Homo sapiens: one gene and its partners. The protein of the gene in region 3 interacts with the protein of the main gene of each other region in a pairwise test. Each region holds a gene or a part of one and is shown on either strand. Other genes may lie near its edges.

What was found.
Region 1: the proteins of GOLGA7 (region 3) and GOLGA3 interact in a two-hybrid assay, tested with the Homo sapiens proteins (one study listed by BioGRID).
Region 2: the proteins of GOLGA7 (region 3) and NCALD interact in binary tests that used the Homo sapiens proteins (3 or more experiments, as listed by UniProt).
Region 4: the proteins of GOLGA7 (region 3) and FAM72D interact in binary tests that used the Homo sapiens proteins (3 or more experiments, as listed by UniProt).

What each region holds. Positions count from the first base shown.
Region 1 is NC_000012.12:132,783,859-132,790,893, forward strand, and holds part of GOLGA3 (golgin subfamily A member 3), read right to left. Parts: intron 5,433-7,035; coding exon 5,169-5,432; intron 2,930-5,168; coding exon 2,835-2,929; intron 2,698-2,834; coding exon 2,481-2,697; intron 450-2,480; coding exon 306-449; coding exon of another isoform or gene 168-305; exon of another isoform or gene 10-167; intron 1-9. UniProt on the Homo sapiens protein: Golgi auto-antigen; probably involved in maintaining Golgi structure.
Region 2 is NC_000008.11:101,780,936-101,787,970, forward strand, and holds part of NCALD (neurocalcin-delta), read right to left. Parts: intron 5,118-7,035; exon of another isoform or gene 4,920-5,117; intron 1-4,919. UniProt on the Homo sapiens protein: May be involved in the calcium-dependent regulation of rhodopsin phosphorylation. Binds three calcium ions.
Region 3 is NC_000008.11:41,507,569-41,511,502, reverse strand, and holds the end of GOLGA7 (golgin subfamily A member 7), read right to left. Parts: intron 1,920-3,934; 3' UTR 523-1,919; downstream 1-522. UniProt on the Homo sapiens protein: May be involved in protein transport from Golgi to cell surface. The ZDHHC9-GOLGA7 complex is a palmitoyltransferase specific for HRAS and NRAS.
Region 4 is NC_000001.11:145,091,676-145,098,982, reverse strand, and holds the start of FAM72D (protein FAM72D), read right to left. Parts: upstream 3,010-7,307; 5' UTR 2,136-3,009; coding exon 1,984-2,135; intron 1-1,983. Other genes in the region: SRGAP2B (SLIT-ROBO Rho GTPase-activating protein 2B), read left to right, coding at 6,082-6,148.

The DNA of each region.
Region 1 (7,035 bases), on a different chromosome or scaffold from region 3:
AGCCACTCGCCTGGCGAAGTTGGGTTTCTTATTTGCAACCAAAGCATTTGAACTGAGAAGGGTTCCACTATGAATTCTGTAACCATTCCACCAAAGAGGCTGTACAGTGATCCTCCCCAGAGGGCTGGAATCAGGGCCTGCCCCACCACAGAGCCAGAGGCCGACGGTCAGAAGGTGGCAACACCAAAAGTAGCAACGCTGGGCACACGGTGAAGTTTTGTTCTTCGGGTCTCACGCGTGGCGGCATGTCCAGGGCTCACGTGACCTGCCCCACGCTGCCGCCACAGCAGATGGCCAGGCCTCACCTCGTCCTCCAGCTCCAGCACCTTCTCCCGGGACTCCTCCAGCTCCTGGCTGGTCAGCGCTATGACCTCCTGCAGTTCCTTTTCCAGCAGCGTCTTGCTATGACTGACAGCCTGCAGCTCCGCCTCCAGGGCCTGGATCCTTTCCTAAGGGCCAAGATGGAACGGGCGCTTGGTCATGGGACAGGCCCTGACCCCCCTCACTTCCTGTGGTGCCGGCAGGCATGAGGCTGTGTGGCTGCACACACCAGACACCAGCTGTCTGACACAGTCTCACAACCTTCCTTTTTGTTAAAGAAGTTGAATTAACCGACCACAGCATGCACACGATGACACACGGGGATAGTTGGGACAAACAAAATCATCTCTTCAGTTCAATGCTTCAAAAATACAGAAGAAAATCTGACCTGCAGATAATGGCTATAAATCACCATCTGTGGCAAGCAAGCAGCACCAGTTGTAATAAATACCACACACATGCTCACGCACCACACATCACATACACACACTCATGTAACACACACCACGTGCACATGTTCACATCCCACACACCACACACACACGTGCTCACACCCCACACGCACATGCTCACACCCCACGTGTTCACACCCCACACCACACATGCACATGTGCTCACACCTCACACTGCATGCACACATACACCCCACACTGCATGCACACATATGCTCACATCCCACACACCATGCACACAAACACTCCACACGCTGCACACACACATGCTCACACCTCACACATGCACGGATACATGCAGGCACAGGTGTGCTCTCACACCCCGCCCACTTGCTGCCTCGATGGTACCAGGCCCTTGCCAAGCATGTTCCAGTACCACCTAACTTAACCCTTACATGAGAAGGTTCTCATTCACCTCAATTTGGCCTCATTTTGCTGAGGATCAAAAAGGTGAGAAATTTGCCAAAAGTCACCACTTGCGAGGGGTGAAGCCCGGACGGACACAAGACATCGGCTCGCAGCTGTGCTATTCCTCAGCTGCAACAGCGTGGCGAGGGGCCAGCTCTGCCCGGCCTTTGCGACCTCCCCACCCCAGCCCTTAGTGAGCCCAAAGAAAATGGCAACTGAATCAATCTCCCCAACATTTTACAAAGCAACCAGGTGAGAGGAAGCACTTGATTTATTTATTGAATTTCAGACACAGAGTCTCTATCGCCCGGGCTGGAGTGCAGCAGCAAAATCATGACTCACTGCAGTTTCAGCCTCACCTCCCAGGCTGAGGCGATCCTCCCACCTCAGTGTCTCAAGCATCTGTGTCCACAGGCACGTGCTACCATGCCTGGGTTTTATTTTTGTATTATTTGTAAATACAGGGTCTAATTATGTTGCCCAGGCTGGTCTCAAACTCCTGTGCTCAAGCGATCCTCCTGCCTCAGCCTCCCAAAGCGCTGGGATTATAGGTGTGAGCCACCGTGCCCGGCCGAGTTTATTTGACAAGAAAACCCCACGTTATGATACAGTCTCTTCCTACCCATAAATTCTTAAGTGGACAGGAGATAGAAACAAACCACATATAAGAAGAAATACTAAGTTGTCAGTGCAAGGACGTGAATTGGAGAATAATAAATAAAATGCGGATGAACTCACTCAGGTAGAATGTTATGCCTACCACGAAAGGTGACAGAGCACGGAGGGCCACGGCCTCCACGGAAGGCTCTGCTCAGAGCCCTCCAGAAAGGGCACCCGCTTGTTCTGGGCCACCGCAGCATGGCTACCTCTAAACGCTCCCTGAACCCTGTCAATCGCTGACCCCATGCCCTCACTCCTGCTTCTCAGTGAGTGCGGAGGCTGCTTTTCCTCCTGAGATGCGAGGAGGCGCAGAGGCAGCTGGAACGCGAGCGGACCAGGGCAGGCCCTCCCTCTGCCCCAAGGGAGCAGCTGAACTTCTCTGAGCCAAGGAGATTTCTTGAGGAAAATCAGGTGAACGCCACAGGCCACAGGCCATGTGGGGTTCATGAGGGAGACGCGAGGCAATGCTCAGTCACTGTGGGTTCCTGGTAACCTGGAAGATGAGCGGGAGTTTAGAGAGTTGCCACCTCCCACGCGAGCTCGGCCCCGCTAGGCTTTAGGGGACAACTGCTGATGGAGAGCCCTTCCCTGCACTGAGGGGCTGGTGACCCTGGCCGGGGATGGCACGGTGTTACCTACATGTAGAGCCAGGCTGCTGTCACTGCTGCCACCCTGGGCTCGGAGCTGGCCCAGCTCCGCGTCCGCAGCCTCCTTGGCCGCGAGGGCCTCCTGCAGGCGGCGGCTGAGGATGCCCACGGCGTTCTCGTAGGCCTTATGTTTGGTCTTCATCTCCTTCTGGGCGCTGGTCAAGTCTGAGCCCAGCCGCCTCATCTTCTGCTTCTGTTCCGTGATGGCCCTGGGGTGTCATGAGGGAGACACAGGAGGAAGCTGAATTATCCCGATGTGACCGTCTGGCATTCTGGTTCGCCTCCCCCCCGGCCCCCGCACCTCCCACCTGGCCCCCGCACCTCCCCCGGGCACATGCAGACTTACTTCCGGGCCTCTTGCTGCAACTCTTCGATTTGTTTCTTCAGCGCCTCATTGGCCTCTGTGACCGCGACCATCTGCTCCTTATCGAACTGCAACGACTGTGGAAGGGAAGGAGGGCGTGAGGAGCGGCACTGCCACCCCCAGCCTGTCTCCCCTTCCTGGCTCCAGCCCATCACCCCCACCAAAGGCACTGCTCAGGCTCGCCCTGGAGGACTTGGGCCTTGAGAAAAATCCTGAGAGAGACGTCTGCCTTCTTACAAACCACTCTTTTTTTTTTTTATTGAGATGGAGTCTCACTCTGTCACCCAGGCTGGAGTGCAGGGGCGTGATCTCAGCTCACTGCAACCTCCGCCTCCCAGGTTCAAGTGATTCTCCTGCCTCAGCCTCCCGAGTGGCTGGGACTACAGGTGCCCGCCACCATGCCCAGCTAATTTTTGTATTTTTAGTAGAGACAGGGTTTCACCATATTGGTCAGGCTAGTCTTGAACTCCTGACCTCGTGATCCACCTGCCTCGGCCTCCCAAAGTGCTGGGATTACAGGTGTGAGCCACTGCACCCGGCCACAAACCACTCATTACTGAGACCAACAAGCGTTTCCAAACACTGTCCAGAGCATCAGAGGCACAACAGGACATGACTGGTTCATAGGAAAGCCTGTGGACCCAGGACCTCTCCTCCAAACCCTCAGGACCCAGGACCCCTCCCCAGGGCCCCAGGAACCCTCCCCAAGGCCTAGGACCCCTCCTCAAGGATCCAGACCCCTCCTAGGAAACCCCAGGACCCCTCCCCAAGAGCCCCCGGGAACCCTCCCCACAAGCCCCTGGATCCCCTCCCCACAGTCCCCAGACCCCTCCCCCAGAGCCCCCAGGACCCTTCCTGAGACCCCGGGACCCCTCCCCAGAACCCCTGGGACCCTTCCCCGGAGACCCCGGGACCCCTCCCCGGAGACCACGGGACCCCTCCCCGGAGACCCCGGGACCCCTCCCCGGAGACCCCGGGACCCCTCCCCGGAGACCCCGGGACCCCTCCCCGGAGACCCCGGGACCCCTCCCCGGAGACCCCGGGACCCCTCCCCGGAGACCACGGGACCCCTCCCCGGAGACCACGGGACCCCTCCCCGGAGACCCCGGGACCCCTCCCCGGAGACCCCGGGACCCCTCCCCGGAGACCCCGGGACCCCTTCCCGAGACCCCAGGACCCTTCCTGAGACCCCAGGACCCTTCCCTGGACCCCCCCCGGATGCCCTCCTCAGGATCAACTGTGAACACTGAGGGCCGCGTCCCCGACCTGCTCCTGCCCTCGCAGCCTTTCCCCAGCTCCTGTGTGCGAGGCGAGTCCCCACAACCAGCCCAGGCCTGCAGCTGTGGGGTCCGAACGTGCTCTGCCCGCACTGCTGAGTCCTCCAAGCCTCCTACAGTCCAAAGAGCCGGCCCTCCCCTTGGCCCACCTCCCCACCCCGGCACCAGCGCTAATCCATCAGCCCTCACTTTCCAACAATGATGGTGCCGGCCACACCGCCTACTCACAGGCCTCAGCCTGGCTCCTAATGAGCCAGACATGCTGACCAATCTGCCTGCTGGGACCTTGGCTCGGTCCTCTCCGGCAACTTCAGAAACTTCATAAGCAAAACGTAGCACTTGGTCTAACGTGCCATCAGACGACTCTCCCCAAATTTACTGTTGCTCTCCTGATTTCTCGTCTCACCTCCCGGTTCCTCAGCCTGGATGTCTGGACAGGATCCTGGACTGCGGCCTCCGTCCCCCGCCTCTACCCCTCACCTGCTCTGCTACCTGCAGCCGAGAAACTGTCACCAGCATCTCGGACACCCACTGTGTGCAGAAGCCAGCCCAGGCTCAGCTTCCACAGGAACATGACTAGCTCTGGTCAGTCCCAGCTCCGCACTCAGCCACGAGGGACTCCCAGGGTCCCCGGGCCCCGACGCCCTGCCCTGACGTGGGGTCTCCACAAAACACTCACCCTTGCTTTCTGCATGACAGCCGCTGTCCTCTCACATGCTAGATCCCGGGAGCCCATGGCAATGGGGAGAAGCTGGGTGCCTCACGGGGCCTCCTCACTCCCTCCCTTCATGCACCATCACCACCTGGACTTATCAGGCCTCACCGGACTGCCCCTCTGGGACCTATGCTCCAGGTGGGCCTTGTTCCCAGCTGTTCTTCCAAAAGCCTCTCCCACCTTGGCCCCACCCCAGACACAGGCCCCGACCCAGACAGACCCCGCCCCAGACACAGGCCCCGCCCCAGACACAGGCCCCACCCTCCCGACAAGCACTTTGGCCGAATCCTCCCCATCAAATGAGTCAACCCGACACGGACAGACCTGCAAGTGTGTTTCCATCTCGTCTCGCTCCTTCTGCGCCGACTGGAGATGCCCTTCAAGGTCCGCCATGTGCTGACGGACCTGGGCCACCTCTCTGTGCAGGCGCGAGAGCTCCGCCTCGGCAGTCCGCTTCTCCCCGTGCACTTGCATCAGCTCCTGCCGCAGCTCCTTCAGCTCCGAGTCCAGCCTCTTCCTGGTGGCTTTCAGCTCACTGATGAGCTGGTCTTTGGAGGTGGCGTCGCGCCGGTAGGCCTCCACCATCACCTGCCAAAGACAGAGGCTGTGAGCGGACGCTGGGCGGCGGGGCGTGGGGGGCGTACCTGGGGGTCAAGCTGGCTTCAACAAAAATGTTTACCACTTATCGGGGGCATAACTTTTTTGAGGTAAAGATACATTTCATCAAATCTAAGACTCCATCGACTGAGACACACCACTGTTTATCCACAGGTGACATCACTGCCTGTTGAGAGACTGCGTGGTGCACAAGGCAGTCACACCGGCCTCATAGACGTCTCCTCTATTCCAAGGAGTCTGGCTCTCTCCTGACTTCAGTTGCACGGCTTTGCTTCCAACAGGTAATCCCCTTGCTTGTGGCTCAGTAATAAAGCAAAGCAGGACTCACGACACCGCTTCAGGGGCCGCCCTTGCTCAGAAATAAAATACAGCAGGCCGGGCGCGGTGGCTCACACTTGTAATCCCAGCACTCTCAGAAATAAAATACAGCAGGCCGGGCGCGGTGGCTCACACTTGTAATCCCAGCACTCTGGGAGCCCGAGCTGGCTGATCACCTGAGGTCAGGAGTTCAACCAGCCTGGCCAACAAGGTGAAAACCCCATCTCTACTAAAAATACAAAAAACTAGCCAGGCGTGGTGGTGCATGCTTGTAGTCCCAGCTACTCACGAGGCTGAGGCATGAGAATCATTTGAACCTGGCAGTTGGAGGTTGCAGTGAGCGGAGACAGCACTACTGCACTCCAGCCCGGGCGACACAGCCAGACTCTGTCTCAAAAAAACTAAATTACAGGCCGGGCGTGGTGGCTCATGCCTGTAATCCCAGCACTTTGGGAGGCCAAGGTGGGCGGATCACGAGGTCAGGAGATTGAGACCATCCTGGCTAACACGGTGAAACCCCGTCTCTACTAAAAATGCAAAAAAAAATTAGTCGGGCGTGGTGGCCGGTGCCTGTAGTCCCAGCTACTCAGGAGGCTGAGGCAAGAGAATGGCGTGAACCTGGGAGGCGGAGCTTGCAGTGAGCCGAGATCGCACCACTGCCCTCCAGCCTGGGGTACAGAGCGAGACTTCATCTCAAAAATAAAATAAAATAAAATACAGCAGCGCTCACAACGCTGCTTCAGGGGTCACCCTCGCTCAGAAATAAAACACAGCAGCACTCACAATATAGCTTCGGGGTCACCCTTGCTCAGATCCCATAAAATCCAACAGGAGGTACTGGCTTCACTGACACAAAATTTATATTCCGTGTCTTTTTGGATAACCAAAATTTGTTTCAATGCTGGAACTCTATGTGCATTTTTCAAAGACATTTTAAATGGCAAACCCAACCTGTGTGTTAACAACACTGCACAACACACAGCTCCCTGGAGTGAGCACAACAGGGTATGCTGACAGGCGCTCCAGTGACAGCCGCCCCTGGAGATCTGAGGGGCCAAGACCCCCACCCCACTGTGGAAGTGTGTCTTGACTTTGCAGATTAAGTACCTTTAAAAAAAGTTAAAGAGGGCCGGGCGCGGTGACTCATACCTGTAATCCCAGCACTTTGGGAGGCCGAGGAGGGTGGATCACCTGAGGTCAGGAGATTGAGACCATCCTGGCTAACACGGAGAAACCCCATCTCAAAATACAAAAA
Region 2 (7,035 bases), about 60 Mb from region 3:
GGTTCATTAACAGTATAGTCCTTGGCTATAATCCGTAGGCTGTTTTGACAGTCTGAGGAGAAAGAGAGTTCTATTTCTAAATAGTAACAGATCGACCTTTAAAAATTGGAAGTTGATCAACATTTTTCAAGGTGGGCACAAACAGATCTAATGACAATTTCTTTTGCAAAGTGGAATTTGGACCAAAGATTGCATCTTTAATGGTTAAATAGCTTCTATTTTGTGAAATATATTCTGAATATACCAAAATATATATATATACCCTGAGAGAGAGAATGGTTTGCTTTAACTACCCCTGGCAGTTGGGCTTGTACCAAGGTTGGTACCACGTTGTCCCATTCAACCTGGGAGACTTTCTAGTCCTAGTAATATACTCAGATAGTCTTATGTTAGTCTTCTATTAATATTCATTTTAAATAACTTAAGTATACAGATCTTGTACCAAGAGCTCAGGGCTCACCAAGGGTTCCCTCACCATTCCCTCCTGAATAGCTGGGAGGTGACAAGGAGCACAACATGGGCAATGGCCTTGGGGCAAAGGCCTCTCGACACAAAAACCAATTTACAAACCTTCACAATTGCCAGCAGCAATAGCAAGTGATGTTTTGTAAGTGGAAAACATACCTTTCATTCACCATCAGAGACTGAAATAAATGACTCAACTGGTTTAAAATCTTTATGTGATCAAATAGTTAAAAAACATATCACCGATTCAATTTCTTCTGGTGTTGGACCTTAGGGACAGTACTAATCTGTGTGCTACTAGAGTGAAATTATCATCAATATCAACGCATTACTCTTCACTAGAATGATTAACAGATGGTGTTTTTGTTGGCTACCCAGGGATTTGTTTTCTATTATTCTTTGTATTGTACATATATGTTATATACACTTTTTTGCATGTATAATTTATAATATTTTTCTTAAAGATGGCATGCTCTGGTTAAGAACATTCTGATAGTTGCCAGACACTTATATTGATGATCAGTATTCAAAGATTTCAGGTGTAATGTAATGCAATGCACTCATAACTTACAACTAAAATTTCACTGAACACAACCTAATTTTTCATTGGTGACATGATTCAAAGATTTTTCAGAATAATGTGCAGTGTCTCAGGGGTTTCAGTATATATATATTGTATGTTTTATATATATATAAATATACATATAATATATATTTATATAAATTTTCATTGTATACTCATTATAGTATAGTTTTATAGAAAATGTTTTAAAGGCTTGACTTGTTCATTTGGTTTGGAACTTATATGAGTATGACTTTGATGAGTAATAGGTTATATGTTTAAAACTATGAAGTTACACAGCTTTGCCTACGGATATAACCCAGCTAAAGTTAAAATGGCTACTCACACCTACGGAGGGCAAAAGATAATTCACATTTCTTAAAATTTAAGAAGTTAAAACTTTTCTATGAGAAAAATGGACAAAAATACTTAGCACATATTCAGGGATTTAAATGAGCTGTGTAAAGAAACAGAGTCACTAAAATATTCTCACCCCACTTAACATGTACATCACTTCCCTGCTCCCAGCTTTCCCCAGCTTCCTAGTGTCTATCAGATCAAATCCAGCTTAAGTGGATAAATCCTAGATCCTCCATGGACCCACCATATAGATTATATATTTTTTCCTTTTCCCAACCATGTTCTTGACTCCAGGTGGGGAGGTGTCCTATTTCTGTCACTAGAATGTTCTCATCATGCTTCTCAATGAAGGATTATCCTTTCACTTTTGCTCCTCATGCCAGACGCTCTCTATCCTTTAGGCCCAACTCAAAGCTCACTTCCTCTCCAAAGTCATCTCAATGCCATATATCCTCTGGGGTTAATCTGTTCACTAATCACCTAACAGAGATGTAAAGAGGAGGCACTGTATGTCCTGCATGATGCTGGGCACTGTGGGAAGTTGTAGCCAGTGTGGAAGACGTAGCTCTGGCCCTCAAATGCAGATGCCATCCAGCCTTCCTAACTAGACTGTTACCTTTTCAAAGACTGGCTGGTCCTATATTACTCATGCAGTATCCTACTTAGCTGAAATATCTTGGATGAGATGGGATATATCCCGGTTATTGAAAAGTCTGGGTGATTGCACCACATCTGCCCTGTGTCTATGGTAAGCAAATGAGGAACAGCTGGAGAAACCTTAGCAGTCCTTGGACATGAAAGGAATATTTTCATAGGCACTTAACTCTAGGGCTCACTGTACAGAGTTAACAAATGCTGAATGAATAAATGAATGAGAGTCTTCTTAAGGGAAGAGGAGTAGACTATTAGGATGGGGTGAAGTTTAAGTAAGTGAGAAGAGAGTTGGGGCATTGATTTCTCTACAGCAGAAGGGAAAGGGATGCCTCTTTGAGTAAGGACACAAGGACCACATTTCTGAGGATTTCAAATGCTAGATTTGACCAACACATGGAGCCACAGACCAATGGGACAGCTGCCATTTTGGCAATTTTGTTAAGAGGCATAAGATTTTGTTGAATTAGCTAAATTTTACCTGGCTAAGGAGAATACCCTAGCTTTACTACAAACCAGTAGAGCAGAAAACATTGCCCTAGAAGCATAGGAAATGGGCCAAAATAGTGTCAAAGATACAGCAGTTTCTAACAATAGAAAAGTAGGCAGCAATTTAGACAGAGTAGGTATGGGAGAGGGAGACAAAGTGGACAAGGAGGACTGAGCATGTCCTATGATGGTCTAGGACAGATGATACGAGTACTGCCATCCACACTGCACTCTCCTGCAGGGAGGGTCCCAGTCAGTGGGGGCCAATGAGCGAGATCTTGCTAAGGCATGCAGTCTGGCCTCAGTGTAGCCCAAATCTTTTCCTAGAACCAGCAACAGCATTAACCTGTAGGACATTGTTCCAAATTTCCAAAAGCTCATTTGTAATTTGGTTGGTAACAGAAATATATTTTCCTCCAGAAATTAGGTTAGGTTAGGCCAAATCACAAAAGTCTATTTAATAATCCATATGTACCTGAAGTTTAGCCCTCTACACAGGCATTTCACTCATTTCTAATTACCCAAATGTCCCAGTTACTCTGATTGCCTAAGAAATTACCCCCCCACACCCCAAATCTTACGGGCTTAAAACAGTAACAACTTTTATTTTGTCCATGAAACTGCAACCTGGGGCAGAGCTCAGCAGGGATAGTGCATCTGTGATTCCCTGGCATCAGGAGGGGGAAGGAAGACCTGATGACCGGGCCTGGAGTCATCTGACAGCTTGCTCACTCACATGCCTGCCAGTTGATGCTGGATGTCGGCTGAGACTTTAGCAAGAGATGTTGGCTGAAATACCTACTCTTGGCCTCTCTATGTGGTCTGGGTTTCCTACAATATGGTGACTGGATTCTAAGGGAAAATGTCAAGAAGAAAAAGAATAGCAAGAGAGAAAAAAATTGTATTCTTTTTATGATCTATCCTTGGAAGTCACCTAGCATTATTTCCACTGTACTCTATCAGTTGGACCAATCATAAGCCCATTTAGGTTCAAAGGGAGGGGCAATAGACTTCACCTCCTGATGGAGAGGAGCAAGATTCTAGAAGAACATATGGTAATGCAGTGGCTCATGCCTGTAATCTCAGCCCTTTGGGAAGCCAAGGTGGGAGGATCTCTTGAGGACAGGAGTTCAAGACCAGCCTGGGCAACATAGTGAGACCCCAAGTCTATAAAAATAAAAACAAAAATTTAGCTGGGCATGGTGGCATACGCCTATAGTCCTGGCTACTCAAGCAGCTGAGGTGGGATGATTGCTTGAGCCCAGGTTTGAGGTTACAGTGAGCTATGATTACACCACTGCACTTCAGCCTGGGCAACAGAGTGAGAACCCATCTCTAAAAAAAAATTTTTTTAATGTGGTAATGGATTCAATTGTAAGGCTATTTTTGAATACAATCTGCCACAACATATAACATTAATTCTGGGGAAAATACAATATATAATAGTAAGTCCTCACAACATCATTGACAACAAAACCAATTATTTTTTCTCATTAACATTACAACAAAACGATGTTGAATGAAATGACGGTATTTGAGGCTCTGCTGTATATTCCAAGTTGAAAGGCAATATAGTATAGTGAATAAAGAGCCAGGACTCTGAAGCCAAATGCCTAGAGCTCTATTGTATACTTGTGTGACACTCAGCAATTTGTTTAAGCTCTCTGTGCCTCAATTTCCTCATTTATAAAACTAGAATGTTGTTAAAAAATAGTTACTTTGAAAAGAACTTTGAAGACTATCCAGCTTCCTAAGTGTTAGCTATTATTATAATACTCTTCCAATTCTGACGGATTCTTCCTGCCTCCTCGGGGGATGGTGGTGGCAGCACTACCAGAAGTAGAAGATTAATAACAGCAGTTCACATTATTGAGTACCTAATACCTGTCAGTTTCTATGCCAAGTAAATTGACTCAAAAATCCAAGAGGGATGCCCTAATATTATTCACATAAGAAAACTCTGATTTAGGTAACTTGCTCAGAGTATCACTAGCAAGTGGTAGAAACAGGCCCCTGATCAGTTTAACTAGATAGAAGGAGCCTGAGTCCCTGGAGGACTGTGTGGAGCAGAGCCCTTCGCCCAATCCTGATTTCTGGGTGAGTGAAAAATGAACAGTGTTGGATTATGCCATTAAGATTGGGGGCTATTTATTACAGCAGTGACCCTGTCCTGACTGGGTTAGTACAGGGAAGACGGGAGAGATATTTTTGGAAATATCACTAATTTAAAGACTCCTTTCATAAAATACAATGGTTTTCATTATTTGTATGAAACAGGGTATTTGCATAAAAGAAAATACTCTCTAGGTCGGTCCCTACCAGTCTCATTTGTCTTCTGAACTAGAGGACAAATAGCCTCTGGCCAACTGGGAATAGGACTGAGCATACCGACCTGGAATCCCTGACACTGATGGGAACAGATTGCTCACAAATGAGGCCGGCTGTTCACCAGCTGCAGAATGTCTCTTCTGGGGTTTCACTCTGGTGTAAAACCTAATGGTTCCCAGGTTGTTTGTCTGTTTTGTTTTGATGTTCTGTTTTGTACTGTTTCCTTTTAGAATTCTCTTTTGGACTGCAGTGGCCAGTGTGGCTGTGGGAAAGAGAACCCCAGTTAATAGTACATATAGGTCTCTGGGCAAGTTCTCTACATAGTTAGACTGCATATTCCATGATGGAAGGGACCTGCCCTGTCTTGTACCTTATAGCAACCCTGGGGTCTGGCTCAATGCCTGACACGTAGTATGTGCTCAAAATTTGCTGAATGCATGAAAGACTGAATGTTTGAATAAAAGCTCAAGCAAACAAAAGCCAGGGTCCATAAAGGCCCTTGGGTTCTCTATGCCAGCAGCATATCTCACTTGAGGATCCCATCAGGGGAGGACCTCACATGCCTACTATAATACTGTGAATGCAGTAGTCCGTTAATAAATGTTCGCCAATTGAGTGACTGTGCTGCACATGATCCATGATAAGATGTGGGAAGGTATAGGACGGGGAAACTTTTGTGAGATGCTATTTTTGATCTCCAACGATATTGTAAATATGGTCGTCACAAACCTGATCATGGTTTGAGTTATATGAATCATATCAAAGTCTGTGGGAGTCAGCAGAGCAGATAGCCAAAGAACACAACAGTTTTCTTGACATTTACCTCTAATAGATAGGGCTTAAATTCATTAAAGCAAACAAAATCCAAAATCATCTTTTAAAAAAATTCATCCTTGCATAAAAGCAATGTGCAGCCTTTGGTCTTCCTGCAGTCACTGGGAGAGATTCAGAAAATGTGAACAATCCTCCCATGAAGACAGGCAACAGCTGGAATGTCTTTCAGGCTAGAGATTTATTTCCTACAAATCAAATATAAAACTGCATTGTGACCTGAGAATATTCTGGTTTACATTAATGTAAACTAAATTTTAAAGGGATGCCGTGTCTTTATTTAAAGGCACTTATGAAAATACATGCAAAAAACCCCCTAAAGTTCACTACTGAGATAAAAAGGGCAGACTGTTTTTAGTTTGGCTCCAGTGAATTTCAATATTTATCATATAATTTTTATATCAAAATCTTAGTGAACATTAACTTTTATGGTATCACTTCTGAAAACAATAAAAAATACTACATTTTGGAATGCTATTTCTAGTTAGATTTCCATCATGAAGCACCAGTTAAATAAATGTGGATTTTATGAAAAATAATGGCACATTCCTTTTTGAAAAGTTTCAAACACCTGGCTTGAGAAGCAAACAGTACAGCCTGGAGTCAGAGATTTTAAACTTTTTCCAAGTTTCTTTATCAAGTTGCTAGAGACTCAAAGCTCCCAAGGCAAGTGTTCTTTTCTAATCCAAAGAATAAGAAACGTTTGAGAACATCTCTTTCGTAATTCCTTTGAGAACACACGAAGACAAATTGCTAAGCTTCCATTTCAAATGCGAGGGATTTGGATTGAATTTAAACAACAGCTTGTGCAAAATGTCATAGCTCCCATTCTCTTACGCGGAGACAGTGGGTGTTGATGTCATAGAAAGGATGACTTTGGACATTCTGAATATAGGGCTGTGACGGCAGCTGACCAACTGCAAAGTTACGCTGTTGGTTTGGAGAGGAATATCAGGCACTATTTTCTGCACATTTAAAGAAACATGTTGAATGAGACAACTACTTACATAAGTCACACTAAACAATACTATTAATACCCCCTGTATTGGTCTTAAATATCCAATAAGCCAAATAAGGTTCTGCATTCAGATACTTGGGAAGTGTCTCCACTTCCAGCTTAATTTCAAACATGCCTCATCCTAGAGACCTCTGTCAGATAAACCTTTAGGGCTCTCTCTTGAGTATCTGGAATTAACATGACAATTGATCAATTCACACGTGTATGTGCTTTACATTAAGCTGGAAAGCCACATGCATTCTTTAATGCTTGCTTCAAATGCTATGAGCACATGAACTACCTTCTGTGGCCCATGGTTTTAACTCGCATAACTTGTACTAACACTATGAGT
Region 3 (3,934 bases):
CAGGCTTTGCATGGTCTCCTTCTCATTCTGGATGCCCCCCATTTCTGCCAGACCCCCAGCCATCTCTGTGGCCAGGCCCCCAGACCCCAAGCCGCCCCAGAAACTGGTAGAACAGGACATGGAGATCTGGGATCCCAAGCCCCCCAGTGCCTGCATAGATGCTGGCTGCGCTGCTGACCGGCCAGGTGCCATAGCTGGGCGGCTGGACAGAGCCCAGGGACTGGTAGTTGGTGGAGAAGGTGGAGGGAGTGGTGAAGCTCATGCTGTCCGGGGAAGAGAGCAGGCTTTGTCAACGACTACTCCTTAATTTTTACTTATAATATACCTGCTGTTGTAAGATAAAGCAGGTAAGAAATTGAGAGGTGTGACATAGAAATGTAAGATGTTTATTTTAAAACACTAAGCTACATTGTACGGTACACTACTACAATTCTAGTATTATCTGACAAATTTAGTGTCCTATCATTTACCACTTTACCATCATTTACTACCAAATCCCACCAAATATGACACAGAGACAACTTGTTTAAGAAAAGTTTTATTAATGTGTTAATATTTCAGCAAAGTTATTGCAACAGGTTGAAAATGCAGACACACTATTACAGGCTGTAAAGTAACAAATGAGTTTTACACAATTAAAATATTAACACATACTTATGGGATTTGTTGAATGACTAACAGACCCATAAAAGAAATTAAATCTGAGACGAAATCCAGTATTAGCACCTACAATATATCTGACAGTGAAACTTTTAATGGTTTCTCTCTCCTAATGTATTTTTAAACTCTCTCCCAAATACAGCGCTCTCAAACCCCAAGGATAAACGAAAGGCATAAGCAGCCCCGATCCTAGGAACGTACAGCCAAAAGCAGAGCTACAAATATGGACTCAGACTTGAGAGTTTTACTGAGAAGTAACTTACTGTACTTGAGCCAATCATAAGATTTCTGTGCACTGAATACTGTATATGAGAAAATTCTGTGGGTCATAAGGTTTGCCTTAGGGATAGTTAAAAATTAGTAATATACAGTATTATTCCTATCAAATTTTTTTCTCATAAGTTATATTTATAACAAAACTATAATTAAAATATTTTTTATACCTGCTTATTCCATATCCAGGGACACAGCGGGAACATTTATGTGTCTGATGGTTTGGCATCCACTTTATTGTGCTTACTGATTTTTGTGATGAACAAGCAGCACGTATCATATCTTTCCAACATTCAAGGTAATGGAACAATGACATAAAATTCTCCAAAGAAATAACTGGAAATTGCATTAAATACTGCTTTAATTAGGCATAATTGCTATAATAAAACAAATAACATTATACATTTTTTTTTCAATAAGCTTCAGTTTGAGGAACTGAATAGTAGAAACAGATCTTAAGATTTGAGTCATGGTAAAACCAGTAATTCTTTGAAATCTGGGAGGTGCAAAACGACAGCCACAGCCAACCCTCACCAAAATCCTGGAGAAAAACATTTTATTAATTTAGGGGAACAAGATAGAACACTGGTGAAGATACGGCTTGTTGAGGTCTAAAGCCACCTGAGAAGCTGGCCCAAGGAATGAAGAGAACCAATGGTATGTACTGGTGGCAGATAACAAGCTTTGCACTGGGCTGACCAACTGTGTTTTATTAAATGGCTTTGAATAAAAAAAAGTGAAGTGCTTCATTGTGTTTTCTCAGAAACTAATCAAAAGATTACAGAGTCCTACACAATTTGGAGACACAAAGTGGATGCTGAGCGACTAGAGGTCACTCCAGGTGTGGAATTTTAGAAAGTGAGTCCTTGGAGTAAATGGCACCGTGGCTCTGGCAGCAGATAGAAAGGAATGATGCTCTGGAGAGGAGGTAGGGACACTCTGCGGTCGGCCAGTGGATACATGAGGGGCCCGGCTGGAAGTGGGATCTGTAATTAGAGGGAGAAGTAAAGGTTTGATAGAGATCCTGAAAATAACTTGTAAAACCATTTTTCTTCCATCAACTGATATCAGCTTATAACATGTGGTCTATGTTCTACTAACCTAGAATTTTATCTACTAAAATATCTTGGTACCATTTGTCTAAATGAGTCTACAGCTCAATAGTCTACAAATCTAAGTCCTATATATTCAGATCTCTGACCAAGCACATCACCATGGAGCCACGCTGCCTTGACTGCTGTCTACTAGCTGTTTGTCCTTGGGCCAGCAACTTAAGTTCTCTCTGCCTCGGCTTCCTCATCTGAAAAACAGGGATAACAATATCTACCTCATAGGGTTGTTGTGATGATTAAAATTAAGCATTTAGAATAGTGCTGGCACAGATGTGCCAACAAACATTAGCTGTTTTTATTATCACTAGTTGTGATGGAATAATCATGTATTCCATTTTATATAAAGATGGCAATCTTAATCCAGAGAGAAAACACCAGTGCATGTAACAATAACAATGTGATAATAAAGATATATGCAAGATATTATAAAAATTAAGCTTAAAGAAAGGCATTTTTGTTTAAAGCTCCTTTTAAAAATAAAGGCCATCCTCATGTTTGTGTAGTCTTTTGTTAAGTCACTAATTCCCACATATTGCTTCAAATTGCAGACACCTTGCAGACTGAAGAAAAATGGAAGAATTGAATAAATTATGCTTAGAGTTTCCTCCCCTTCTCTAAGATCTCAGCTCACATTGCATCCTGGACCTTGGGAACACCCAAATCCCAAAACGAAATTGTGTTGAACAAAAATATCTGCATTCATGAAAGAGGGTATCCAGAAGTTATTAATGTAAATCTTTCCCATTTCAAAATTCTAGTTATTTGAATATTGATAGATTAGCCTCTGGTGTGTAATTGCTCAAACCTCACACATCAGAAAAACACATGATTACACAATAGCTGCAAAATGAGTCATGACAAATGGGCTGTGCCAAGTCATCGCAGCTGCAACTGATATACAAACCATGGCATGGAACAAAAGCCACACAGAAGGTTGCTGGTTGTTTGAGAAGTATCAGTTTGAAAATTGTACATGAGAAAGCGTATGGACAAGTAACACTAAGTATTCCAAAACAAAGCCTTTTTAAGGAAATACAACATATGGCAGAGGATAGATATCATGATTTAGATCTTTGGCTTTCAGGAATTCAGGTGACACATTCACTAGTGCTAAAGAAGGCAGCTCTGGAATGTTGCATGGCTTACAGGATTGAATAAATCATACAGGAGCAGACAAAATGTATTCTTTTTTAAAGTATTGAAAAAGAAGAGAAGGGGATAAACCTCTAGAATTATCTGATGAACTCTTCCCTTTCTCCATGTTCCTGCTGCTGCAAGTACTGAGAGGAAGTACGGTGTAAAAGACAGGGGTTTTATGATCAATCAGACTTGGGTTCATATCCCAATACTCGTTAACTGTGTGACTGTGAGAACATCATTTAATCTATTTGTATCCAAGTTTGCTCATCTATAAAATGGGGAAATACTTTGTAGGGTTCTTGTGAGATTCAGAAGTACCATTTGTACAATACCAGGCACATAGTACGTGCCCTCAAAATGGTAGCTGTTATTGATGTTGCCCTAGGAAGACATGTGTCTGCTTTGGTACATTCTGTGTCTGTGCTGTCTATTAATTAGTGACAGATACCTATAAGCACAGTCAACTAGAAAAGCGCAGCAGCAGAACACTTTCTGTAGGAAGACCACGTAACTAAAATTGGCAGAAATAGTGAAGTGCTACTTCCTGTCACTTAGAAGGCTATGCTAAAGTACTTAGGGCTTCAACGTGACTCTGCCTAGAGATTCTTAGTAGTATTAATTTGTTTCTTACTCATTAAAGGGCAGCATCTGGATATTTAAGGACATTAATACTTTAAACAAAGGAATGAAATTTATGTTTCTACTCAGTAGGTAAGGTTTCTTCCACAGGGGTCTGAAGCCACTTAAAC
Region 4 (7,307 bases), on a different chromosome or scaffold from region 3:
GAGAGAAAGGTATAAAAAGACAGTCAGATGTACTTTACAAAAAATTTAATTGTGGCAAAAAATTAACAAAATTTACCAACTTAACAAGTTTTATGTGTGCAGAGCAGATGTGTTAAATATAATCACATTGCTGTGTAATGAATCTCCTGGGTTCAAGTGACCCTCCTACCAGAGTTTCCTGAGTAGGTGGAACTATAGGCGCCCTATACCACATTTTGTTTATCTGTTCATCTGTAGAATCAATGGACATTTGGATTGCTTCCACCTCTTGGCTATTGTGAATAATGCTGTTAATGAACATGGGTGTGCAAATATCTCTTCCAAGATCCAGTTTTGAATTCTTTTGGATATGTACCCAGAACTGCTGGATCAGATAGTAATTCTACGCTTGATTTAGCACAAATTTTGTCAATCCAAAGAGCTGAAAGCTAACATAGAAGTATAGTATATTTTTAAAGAGTCAGTTCATATTTGTGAGCTCAACATAAACATCTGACAAATTTTCCATTAAAAAAATTTTTATGTGTTCATTGATTCACATACATCTTAGCACGCTAATTCATTATTATTTTAACCCCTACAAAGAAGGGTAGAAAATAGGAAAAACATGATTCTATTCTAGACTTGGGTCTAACCTGTAACAATTCACCTAGCCTTCCTTATGACTGCCCTATTACTTACCATAGCTATTGCAAAGATGAATGGGTTAATATTTTAAATTTGTGTATGAGCTACTAAAAAGAAAAAGCAGTGGACAATGAATCACAGAACTTTGTAGCAGTAGGTTCTATGATTTATTTTCTAGTGTTTTCCCTTTTTTGAAATACATATACGATGTACACACACACAAATGTAAAATATTAACTTAGAATTTAAAAAAATTAAAAAGATTTTAAAATAACACATTTATCTCTGCAATAAATGAGAGCCTTTGGCTTTGCTGTTAGACGTGATTACACTTAGACCAATTCAGAAAAGATTTCAAGAAAGGAAGAGTACACAGCTTTACCTGGGTAAATCAAAAAACTTGTAAAGTTTCTATCATTATCATGAAATTCATTTAAAATGAATTGTGGTTATTAACCTGCTTCCTCTGGCTCTATATCCAAAGACTTAGAGAATAACTGTCCACTCATATTTTGGATAATTACTTTCCTTTTAATAATAAAATTTCAATAAATAACTAAATTTTGAAGATTCATGTAGGGCATATATATGTTGATTATGGAAAGGGAAAGTACCATTTAGAGCTAGAAAGAGGTTTATTTGAGTCAAATAAAATGGCTATTTTACCAAATAGGAAGCAAATTCTTAAGGACTCTACACCCAAAAGCAGTTAGTGGCTGAAAACAAACAGATTTTAAAAGGGTTCAATTATGGGAACAAATGTGTAATGTCCAAAATAGTCTTTATTGGAGATAAGGATTAAGGCTAAGTCTCTATTTTTCATCCCATAAAAATCTATTTACATCTCTTTCAGAGAGAGAGAGTTTTGAGGAAAGAAAACTGAATTTGATGAACAACGGATCTGATTTAGGATGCCAATTGCAAATAATGATAGAAAACGGATTTTTTTTTTTTGGTGCAAAATTTCATGGATAAAAATGAAAAACTTAAATGACCTCTCCTCTCCAACAGTACAGAAAATTTTGCCTGAATTTACCTAAAGTCTACGCCACGGACTTGATTCAGTGAAATAGGATGGTTGGGCAGGGCACTGAACCAGGGATCAAACTTAAGAGATGTGTGGTCGCATGACTGCAATTGAACTAGAAGCATTACATCAGGACTGACCACCTTGGCTAAACCATAGACTTTGTCCAGACAGTCTGCCCACTTAGATATATTACAAGGGGATCATCAAACTGGTGGGAGTGGCTGAAACACCGAAATGATAACCTCCTTGTTGACTCCCACAGATCCAAGCCATAAGTGTTCCCATTTAGTTAAAAGCTACCGTTGCCCGCCACTAGCATGACTTACTTGGTAGGAGGGATGTCTGTAGAGAAAAGGTCTATTTCAGTATCAGCCAGCAAAACAGCCTTCATTCCCCTAGAGCTGAGCACTTGTTTACAGAATTTGCAACACAGGATGGACACGCACCTGTCCTTGAAACTACAAATGTTGGTGGACATGGCGTCGCAGGAAGGATGAGGTGTGGGATTTTGAAAAAGGAAACAAGAGTAATGCTCCTACTATTTTGATTCCCCTAGGCTAAAATTCAAATTGCGGGACCTAGAGCTTTTCTAAGTCCTAATATTGGGAAGGAAATTAGTTTTTTTTTCTGTTTTCCCGGTGGCGGAGTAGAAGAAGTATTTATTGAGTAGGAACAGGGGAGCGTGGTAAACTTGGCTTTCCTTTTAACTTTTGGAGAAGGGAGTGGAGTTTGAATTGGAGAGGAGGCAGGTGGAGTTTGAAGGGAACTTCTCAACGGCTTTCCCTTTCTGCTGTCTAAAGGAGTCCTCTACACTTCAGCTCCCGCCCCTTCATAGCAATTCCCTCAGCCTTCTCCGATCGTCTAATTTAAAGCTTCTCCTCTTTTAAGACATCCCTTCCCCAGCATTAAGCCCCTCCCCCGGAGCGCTCCGGTTCCCTGCTGTCGGATCTCGGGCTAAGCGTCCCTACCCACGCCTCCTCTTCCCAGGATTCAGAAACTCCCTTCTCTTTTTCTGCCAGGCGATCCCGGATTCTCCTCCGTCCCGCCCCTTTTCTCCCGGACCTTCCTCCGCTCTGCGGGTCCGCGGGCCCCTCTCCTGGCAACCCCCGGCCCTCAGCGTGCTCGCGCTGTTTCTCTCGCGTCCTCCCTTCCCTCAGCTGTCCCTCGTGCCCCCCGCAGTCCCCTCAGGTTTCTTCCCGGAGCGGCTGTTCCCGGGCGCGCGGTGGTGTTGGTGGGGCAGAGCTGAAGTCGCTTTAGAGGCTCAGTCGGCGCTGGGGTCTGTCACCGAACACGTTGGTTTTCGCTCCCTCTTCCGCTTTTCCTGCCTCTCCAACCCGGTATCAGTTTGAATTGCCAGCGCCGCGCACCGATTGGAAGAACTAGAGTTAGCCCCAGTCCCTCATTGGAAGGCTCCGGGGCCTCCCCTCACGAGAGCTTAGTGGCTTGAAGACCGTAGGCACCGCCCCAGTAACGGTGCTGAGATCAATTCGGCTTTCTGGTCGGCTGAGCTTGGCTCCGCCTCCGATCTCATTGGCCGGCTTCGGGAGGTTTCGGCAAACCCTGCTTTAGCCCTAGTGAAAGTGGCAAGGCACGCCCTTCCCGCTTCTTATTGGAAGAGGGTCTACAGTCTCCACCGGTCTCTACTCTTTATTGGTTAAAATTCCCCGCAACACCCCTCCTCTCTACCCCGGCCCAATTGGCCGTGCCTCAGCTCAAGAGTTTGTGTTTGGTCGTCGGTTCCACCTTAATCCCGCCCATCAGTTCTACTTAGGGGTTCAACAACCCGGGGTGGAGCTTAATCTGTGACCACGCCTCGGCAGTGCTAGTCACACCTCCAAGTTTTGCCAGCTCCTCCCCCTCATTCCGGGCCTCTCGGGATCAGCTCTTCCTATTGGCTATGGGCCCCATCGGTCGATAGAAAACGGGCGGTGATTGGTAAAGGGGTGGGCTCTACTTCCCGGCGGGGTCCTGCGGAGTTGGCGGAGGCTCCTCCAGGGACTGGGGCACAGATCTGCGTAGAAACGGGTGGCGGGGAAGAGAGGGGAGGAGAGCTCTGAGTGGGAAGCGGAGCCGGGGGCCTGGGACCCGTCGCGTCAGAGCCAGGTAAAGGCTCCTTCCCTCTTCCTTTTCTTCCTCCCGGCCGCCGGGCTGGAGCCCTGACTGAACAAACCCGGGCTGGGGCGGGAAGGAGAGGGCGCGGATGCTGCTCGCGGCATCGCCTTAGCGGTGCCGCCCGGAATCCCTCAGACCGCCCCTCCTCCACCCTCTCCAAATCTCCCAGTACAGCCCATAATACTTCTCAGGACTGCGAGTCTCTCCGCCCATCACTGTACAGCCTGGGACTCTGTCCTGGCTCACGGACCGCAGCGCAGCCGGCACCCAGCCGCCTCTCCCTTTCCTCCGCACACGGGCAGCCGCGGTCCACCGTAGGGCAGTCGTCGTTGGCATCGCGCGTAATCATCGGCCGGCCTCCTCCAGTGTCTCCCAGCCCTGGCGGACAGCCCGGGTCCCAGCCTAGGACCCAGGAGGATGGGTGTTCCGCGCAGCTTCCGGGGCTCTCCCCGAGTCCCACCCCCCGGCCCGCCCCGATGGACTTCTCTTCGCCCACTCCCATCCCTAGACCACATCTCGGCCCCCACAGTTCCTGACATCCTTGCGCTTCACGCAACATCGCGGCCCATGATCATGCCCCAATTCCCCTCACCTCTAAGGCAGCCTTCTCCTTGCCGCCTCCCGCCTTCCGAGCGTGTGCAACTCCAGTTGTCCCCGGGCTCCCTTCCAGCCTCAGGACCCCATCTCACACCCGCCTCTCGCTTCCCGCTTCCCGCTCGCCTGAACCCCGCCGCCTCTGCTCCCTGTCTTGTTCCCTCAGCGTGGCCCCTTCCTCCAGCCGCGGGAAGTGGGAGACGCTAGCGGGAGCTTCCTCCTCCCGGCGCTCGGAGGAAAAGGAAAGACCAAGTAGAAAGGGTCGCCGCTGCGGCACGCGAGGGAGCTAGTCGCCGGGCTCCGCGCTCCCGCTTGCGTCCCTCCAGCCCCCTGGGCCTCGTCCGGGGCCGGATCTTCTCGGGCACCGCCTGGTGCGAGGAGTCAGGACTGCGACCTCACCGACCTCCTCCCATCCCCAGCCTGGGATTGGGTGGGATATCTGGGATCTCTGAGCTTGGGTGTCAAAAAAATATTGGGGGTGGCATTTATAGTCACTATCGTCCCTAGCTTGAGGGAGGCGACGGCTGCCTTCCGCTCGCCGCCCCCCGGTTTTCCCGGCTCCGACCCTATCCTCTAACCCGTTTCCTGCTTCAGCTGACCACATTGTTTTCCTGGATGTGTCCCGTGCCGAGCAGGCTTTTTCCTGCAGATTTGCCCCGCCCCCCCATCAACATTTTGCTGCCAAGAGAAGCTAGTAACCAAAAACAAAACAACTGGGAGGAGGGGCGGGAGAGGAAGAAAAGTTGTGCCCTGGTGGCTTGTCCCTCCCCGGCTTTGATCCCCTTTGATGTACAGGGAGGTGCCCCGGCCGGGGGTCTGGGGCCACGTCGGGGGCTAGGTCGGGAGGGCTCCCTCGGGCTGGCCGCTGCCCAGCGCTGGCGGGGCTCAGCAGGCCGCCGAGGTGCCGCATTCCCCGCCCGGTGCCCCGCGTTCCTGCAGTTCCCGCCCGGAGCCCGCGCAGGCGGCTGCTCCAAAGTGTTTTCTTTCAGCCTTAAAATCCGGAGGGAGCTTCCTTCCTCCCCACCTCGTAGCGCCAGGCTCTGCGGGCGGGGAGACGTTAAGCGGACAGGAATGGGCCCAGGGCGGGCTCGGAACGACGTCCCCTACCCCACCCCCGCCGCGATTAGGATCTGCGCTCTGGCTGATCGCCCCCTCCCCCTTTTCCTGCATTTACAGGCAAGTGAACCGGAGCAAACGACTTCCGATCCAGTCTGCGCTGTTGCGGCTCCCGTTTGGGATTTGATTTGCAGCATCTTTGAGCCTCTACGACAAAAAACCGCGAAGCACGCCCAGCCCTCCCCCGGCACCCCGAAAAGCACCCACTCCCTCCCGGGGACACAGCTGGGCGCGTCCACACCCCCGCAGCCCCACACCATGTTGTGCGGAAGGACTTCCACTCCCCGCCTGTGTCGTTGATGTCAGACCCCAGGCCAGCCTCCGGGCGCTGCAGTTCTCCCGGCTAATGCTGAGGCTGCGGCTCCGGCTCTAGCACAGGCACCAGCCGCCGCCGCACCCGGCCTCAGCGCCCACCGTCTGCATGTGCCCGCCGTAGCCGTCTGCCCAGCCCGCAGCCCGCGCTCCACGGAGCGCTGGAGACCACCGTGGGGGGCCCCTTCTGCCCTCGAGAGAAGCGGTCTTGGAGGTATTGATTTAGGTGGTTGGATTTTTTCCGTGGATCTATCAATTCACAATTCGAATTTGGAAGAAAGAAGGAAAACATGACGTCTCCAGCCAAATTCAAAAAGGATAAGGAGATCATAGCAGAGTACGATACTCAGGTCAAAGGTAAGGGTTTTGAAAAATAGCACACTGCAAATGCTCTGTGGACTGGTGAGGCGTGTATTTCCACCGTGATTTGCAGGTTGTTCATTTCTTTGGGTGGAGCAGATGGGGGCAGGCTGACCCCAGAGGTGGTTTCATAGATGGGTCTGAACCTCCAAAGGATGGGCAATGCCAGGGGGCCATTGACACTGGAAAGGAATTTTTGCAGTGGGCTGTAGGAGTATCTTTGTGGGGCTGACCATGATTTTGGCAGCCCTTTCCCCCCAAGCCGGGCAGGGTGGGGGGAGGGGCAGGAGGCTCTTAGAGAAAGGCAGTTTGCCTCCGGTTCTCTGGGTCAGGTTTCCTTGAAAGACAACTGAAATCTGACAGGTGTTTGGACATTTGTTTCAGAGATTGAAGAGGAGTCCAGACAGAAAGGCAACCTTGGGAAGGTGTACCATTTGGAGAGCCTTGGGAGAGGCGGGGTTTTTTGGATGCACTATATTAAAACATGAGATTTGCAATGGCATTGGCACCAAAAGTCCATTGCCACCTTGGGTGTACCTTGTACCTGCCTGGTCTCTGGTCGGCCTGCATACAATCAGAGATCAGAGAATAAGGCCACCCACGCCCGGTCTCCGCCCTCACCTAAATCTGAATAGAGTTGGGAGGATGTTAGGGTAGCCGGTTGGTGCTGATTCTGGAAAATGGGAAGACATAATTGTTTAACCCTTCTGTGCTGTGGCCCTCTGCTCCGGAAGACATGCTTTTAAAGCCCCATTTCCCTCTCCTGAAAAATGTGAAGGGTAAAGCAAAGTGTGGACTAGGAGAAACCAAGTGACCTGTCTTCTCATCTAGTCGACTGACTTGACTCATGAATAAGAGCCCTTACTCAGATAGCGTTTTTTAAACCAGCAATTCCCATAGGAAGGGTTCCTGCCTGTTAAAGAGCTGCAGCATGTGTTTGTGCAAGGCACTGTCCTTTCCTGGTCAGTCACTGGAAAGAGCCATGTGGCTCCAGCCCATTGAGACCTTAGCTGGGGAGTGGAAGAGGTGGGTGGCCTTGAATGTTACACCACATGGTTGGAGCTCTGGGTTTTCCTTTGTTTCAGAGTACAGAGGGAGGGGCCCCTCCTTTCCCTGCACCAGTGCAAGGAGACCTTTTCCTATCAGAGAGGACTTG